Regions from separate parts of the Homo sapiens genome. Here region 2 is linked to region 1. A link means that fine-mapping ties the variant in region 1 to the expression of a gene that starts in the linked region. Tissue or cell type: whole blood. Region 1 holds a variant in brackets; the other region holds the start of a gene. All regions are shown on one strand. Distances are from middle to middle.

Region 1 (2,679 bases):
AATTAGCCGGGCATGATGGCACACGCCTCTAATGCCAGCTACTCAGGAGGCTGAGGCAGAAGAATCACTTGAACCTGGGAGGCGGAGGTTGCAGTGAGCCGAGATCATGCCACTACGCTCTAGCCTGGGCAAGATAGCGAGACTCTGTCTCAAAAAAAAAAAAAGTCAACTGCTTGTGCTTAGGTTGTTTGAACCCTCACCAAGTCATGAGTGCAGAGCAAAGCTGGGGATTTGGCTTGGCCCCTGGTCAGGCTGACGCTTGGAGCTGACGGATGGAGGCTTCTTAGCCAGAGAATCATTTTTTCCTCCCTCTGTCCCCAGACGCCATGGAGTTGGTGCTGGTCTTCCTCTGCAGCCTGCTGGCCCCCATGGTCCTGGCCAGTGGTAAGTACCCCTCTGGGACCTGGCTGTGACAAGATGACAACCCTGTCCAGCCCTCTCTGCTGGAAGGTTCTGGGCCCCTTGGGACATTAGGGCTGGGGGACTCTCACGTTCTTCATGTCTAGTCAGGGGCCTCTCCCTTCAGTCAGCAGAGAAAGTCGTGGAGGTGGCAGCTATTTATTCACAGACCTCAGCACAGCCTGCCCCCTCGCCCCCTAAGGGTCCGGCAGGGAGTAGTTTTTAAGCCCCGCAAGCTCACTGCGCCTCTGTGGATTTGTGGCCTGAACCCTGGGATTCAGACCTGCACATCAGTCTCTAGACCATATTAGCAAGTGCTGGCCTCGTGCAAGTCATATGTCCTTCCTTGGTCTCGGTTTCTCCGTGTGTCACAAGAGGAAAACTGACCCTGCCTTCTGGGGATGATGTAAGAATACAAAGGGGCAATGAATGTGGGTGTTGCATGACTCAGAGCCTCACTGAGTTTCGATGCCTTCACTGACCTCGGCCCTTAGGGTTCCCCTAACCCCCTAACTGGCAGGCCCGCCCTACCGTGCACCTCTAGGCATCTCTGTTTAATGGGCCCTGCT[C/G]CTCTGGAATTCCTTTGTGGAGACTGAGGTCTGTGAGGCAAGGTTAGATATTTGGGAACCAGTTTGTGTAGCTTTCTTTCTCTTGACCAACTGTTTGTTTTTGCAGCAGCTGAAAAGGAGAAGGAAATGGACCCTTTTCATTATGGTGAGCGATGGCAACCCTGGGTGCAGGGGTCAGGGGGAATGCAGCCCTGCCTGGCAGGAGGGGTAGGGGGAACAGACACCCTCTCCCTGGCCCCTTCCTCTCTCACCCTTGGTTCCTTTGGCAGATTACCAGACCCTGAGGATTGGGGGACTGGTGTTCGCTGTGGTCCTCTTCTCGGTTGGGATCCTCCTTATCCTAAGTAAGTTTGTTCTTTTGCTCACTCTGTTAAGAGCAATGACTGAGGCTGCTAAGCAGGTGGGGACAGTGTGAGAGCCTGGTTGGTCCCTCTCCTGGAGAGGAAAGGAGGCTGCCTGCCCTCCGTGTTATCTTCACGACCCAGTAGAGTGCTGGGCACATAGTAAGTGCTCAGTAAAACAGTGACACGGGAACAAAGAAAATGTCATATGACAATGAGCATAGATAGGAACGAGCAGGGTGGCTTCCCAGTGCTGTGTCTATAGGGCATGAATGGGGCAGTCACGGAGGAAGGAGACAGGTGCTGCCCTAGTGTGCGAGGGATGTGCCTCCGAGTTTGTTGTTCCCACATGAGCCTGATCTGCACAGATCCCTCTTTACTCACATGATCAAGAGGGCTGTGGGGGTGTAGCCATTCCAGCTATAGAATGTATTTCCTTTGCCCCAGAAGAAGCTACCCCATCCGAGGGCCACTGTGTGCAGCTGTGCAAACTGTGCACTGCCCAGGTCTAGGGGGTGCCATTTACATAGTCCCACAACCTGCACAGACCCTTGGCCCTGCTGTGGCCAAGCCAGCAGCATGACCTTGGATGGTTTCTTTGCTTTTCAGGTCGCAGGTGCAAGTGCAGTTTCAATCAGAAGCCCCGGTAAGGATGCCGTGGCAGTGGCCTTGGGGGGGTGATACTAGGTGGGACAGGAAGGGACCCCTGGTGTGTGACCCCCAAATGGGCATTCTCTTGGATTCTTGTCTCGGAGGCAGAACGTGTGTGTTGGGACGTAGGGCTGGAAGTTTGAGGACTGCCAGGTAGACTCTGGGGCAAAGGAGAGGTCAAAACATTGAAGGTCAGCCCATCCTGTCTCTTCTGATCTATGTGGGGGACGGGGAGTGGACAAGAAAGTACTGGAACCTTTTCTGGAGGCCCTTGGGACAGTTGAGCTTGGGAGAAGGGAAGCAGAGGGCTTCCTGGCCTCTCTAGATGCCCAGGTCCTCTCTACAGGACCTGCGACACAGTCCCCACTTGTCACCTGTTCATGAGGCTCTTTGAGCTGAATAGACACTTGGACCTTCTTTCTACTCCCACATAGAGGTCATACCCCATTAGTTTACTATAATAGCCAAGGGTAGCTTGGACCCCAGAAGTCCAAAGCGTGTGGCAGGACACACCCAAGCCCCCATGTGGCCCTAGCCTCCCCTTCCCATGAGGGCTGACATTGAAGGGTGCCTGTAAGTTCCCTCTGAGTCTGACCCTTCAGTCCAGACCTTTCCCTCTGTCCCATGCATCCCACAGCAGAGTGAGCTCCAGCCCCTCAGGGCACTGGGAGGAGCCTGACTGCAGGCAGCTGTGCCCCAGTGAGGAGCAGAACGATGCT
Region 2 (2,679 bases), 35 kb before region 1:
TGAGGGGAGGCTTTTTGGGTGCTCTTTCTCAGTAGCTATTTATGGTTCCCCTACTGGTTCCAAAGTCTTCTTGAGTTCATGTATATTTCCTGCCTTGGGGTTTTGAGACCTGACCTTTTATTAAAATAATTAGATCATCTAGGGCAGAGCTGGAAGAGACCTCAGGATCATCTAGTCCATCTCCCTATTTTCCCAAATGAGAAAACAGGCCCAGAACTGAGGGCAGCAGAGGCAGGGCTAGGTTTCTTCCTAGCAGTACCCATCATCCCCGGCTTGGGGTTTGTAAGGAACTCTCCGTGGCCCTACCTAGGCTTGGACAATCACAGCCTTTCTCAGTAGCTCCTCCCTCCACCCGGCTCGGCCATACACACACCTTGACTGAGGCTGGACAGCCTCCATCTCAGCATGGCTCCTGGCTACTGACACTTGTGCCTGGCCTCTGCCCCTTCCTACAAGCTCTGCCCCTAATAGTAAGAGCCAATTTCTTGAGCACTCACTATGAGCTAAGCCTCCCATGGGGTCAGTCTCTAATCACCATTTTCCCACGTGAGGAAATAGACTCAGGAGCTGAGTGCAGAGATATGCTCCAAGTCGCGTCACAGGCAGGGTTGCCGAGCCAGGATTTATTTACATCTTCACATTCAAAGTTCGTCATCATGAATTTTGACTCTTGGGGACTGGGCTGAGGACGGGGTGGTACTGCTCCTGGCAGGGCCAGAGGTGGATGGGGCTTGAAAAGGGGGTTCAAGGCAGCAGATCTATGGTTCAGGTAAGGACCATCCCCCCAGCTCCCCACCTGGCTCTAGCTGAAAATGACAACTACAACTGGAGCTGGCTCCTGCGCCCACGACACAGCCATTCATGCTTTTGGTGCACATTCCCCTTAATTACCAAGGCTCCCAATTAACGTGGGCTGCTGTGTCTGGTGCTGGGTTATTTTCTCCTATTTTTCCGTTCCTCGGGGTTTACTATTGCAGAGAGACACCAGGTCTGTCATTGTGCCTGTCTTGCTCCCTTCCCACCCTAACCAGAGGGAAACCGAAAAGCAACAGCTGATGGCAAATCCGCTCCGGCGCTTGCACGCCTCCTCGGCGGCAGTCTCCTGTTGCTTCTCGGAGCTTGACTGCCCTTTGGAAAAATCTCTCCGCCCCTCGAGAGGAGAGAGGAGCAGAGGACGCGCGCGAGCACAGAGCGGGAGGACGGACAGGGAGAGGAGGAGAGGGGGTCTGCGCGCGGCCGCTACCCAGAAGCCAGCGGACGGCAGCACGGAGTGGGCTGTCCCCGAGCCCAGCCCCGAGCGAGCCCCCCCCCCGCCCCCGCAGGACGCGCCTCCCAGCCAGCCCGACTCCTAGGAGGAGGGGAGGCGGGAAAGCAGCTCAAGCCTCACCCACCGCCCTGCCCCCAGCCCCGCCACTCCCAGGCTCCTCGGGACTCGGCGGGTCCTCCTGGGAGTCTCGGAGGGGACCGGCTGTGCAGGTAGGCGGCTGGGGAGGTGGGCAAAGTTGGCTCCTTTTTCCGAGGAGGGGCGAGGCTCGGTGGGGACCGATCTCTGGAGCGCCGGGAGCGCCGGGTTTTGTGTGTTCAGTGGGTGTGTGCGGTCCTCCGCGGTCAGCTGCGCCGCGGTCCCCGCCTGGGCAGCGGGAAACCGGGCTGGGGATGTAAACAAGGAGATCGGCGTCGGAAGAGAGAGGAGCCTCTAGGGGAGGCAGGCTGTGGCGCTGGGGGTGACGCTGGTGGCTGGGAATTGCTCTCGGTGCTGCCTTGAGCTTGGGGTCAGGGTTTTCAGGAGAAGGGGAAAGGGCTGCGCCCACCCTTTATCCATGAGGAGTTTTCCCTTTGTTACTTGGAAGCTGTGGACACTTGGTGGAGCGTGGGGAATTACGGACGAGGGCGTGTGGCTGGGTGTGAGTGTGGACTTATGAGCGACACAAAATGGAACTTGCTGGTTTGGTGCTTGGGGAAGGTGGGGCTGGGCAGTGGGCACAGGATGGGGGCGCAGGGAAAGAAGGATTCTAGCGCTCGGGGATTCATGAGAGTGCATCATTTTTTCCCTCCTTCTTGTCTTATCCATCCAATCCTGTTTCCTTTCCGGGGGGCCCTGGGGTCCGCCATTGCCCCCTTTCCCCAGCAGGGCTGGCCCTGGCAGAGCCTCCCCTATTGTGTCTCCCGGGCTTCCGTGGAGAGTTGGGTGTGCAGCCTGGAGCTCCCAGCGCTGGCTTCTGGCTCTTACAAGTGGTGGCTGGTAGAGGAGGCACCCGAGGGTGGGAGCTGGGAGCAGCCTCGCTGGAAACATGGGTCTGCCGCGTCACCTGCTGCAAGCCTGCACGCTCGCGGGACCGTGGCTACTGGAGGCTTCTCCCCACCAGTGTGCTCTCTGCCACTACTTCCTTTGTCTCTGTGGCTTCGTGCTGTCTGGCTGGGCTAAGATTTCCAGCTTTGAAGATGGATCAGTGGGCATCTCAGGCCCTCTCTGAAAGGAGCCCCCTTTGGGGATCCAGCCACCCTCATATTATGGATGTGTATGTCTACGTCCGCAACTTAGCCTTTTGCACGTGACTTGCCTGGTCGTTGCCATGGAAACTCCTCCATTTCTCAGCCTCCCTCTTTCTCCTGCCCATTCCTCACCTCCATATCTCCTCCCCTCCCCCCAGTATGGTTGCCTAGATACTGGTTATCCCT

The links. PIP is the estimated chance that this variant, and not a neighbour inherited with it, causes the effect.
Region 2: it holds the start of FXYD6, and the variant in region 1 is fine-mapped to the expression of FXYD6 in whole blood (TOPMed, PIP above 0.99).

The regions. Positions count from the first base shown.
Region 1 is chr11:117,840,424-117,843,102 of GRCh38, reverse strand. It overlaps FXYD6-FXYD2 (FXYD6-FXYD2 readthrough), which reads left to right. Exons shown (of 10, transcript NM_001243598.4): 2 at 322-384; 3 at 1,075-1,113; 4 at 1,238-1,312. The coding sequence starts at 327. It overlaps FXYD6 (FXYD domain containing ion transport regulator 6), which reads left to right. Exons shown (of 8, transcript NM_022003.4): 2 at 322-384; 3 at 1,075-1,113; 4 at 1,238-1,312; 5 at 1,919-1,955. The coding sequence starts at 327. Among named protein-coding and RNA genes, the nearest start is that of FXYD6-AS1, 8.0 kb to the right of the region's middle. RefSeq lists an enhancer at 192-1,391. The variant C/G (reference allele first, on the strand shown) is at 969.
Region 2 is chr11:117,875,389-117,878,067 of GRCh38, reverse strand. It overlaps FXYD6 (FXYD domain containing ion transport regulator 6), which reads left to right and starts at 1,410. Exons shown (of 8, transcript NM_022003.4): 1 at 1,410-1,476. FXYD6-FXYD2 (FXYD6-FXYD2 readthrough) reads left to right here and starts at 1,410. Exons shown (of 10, transcript NM_001243598.4): 1 at 1,410-1,476.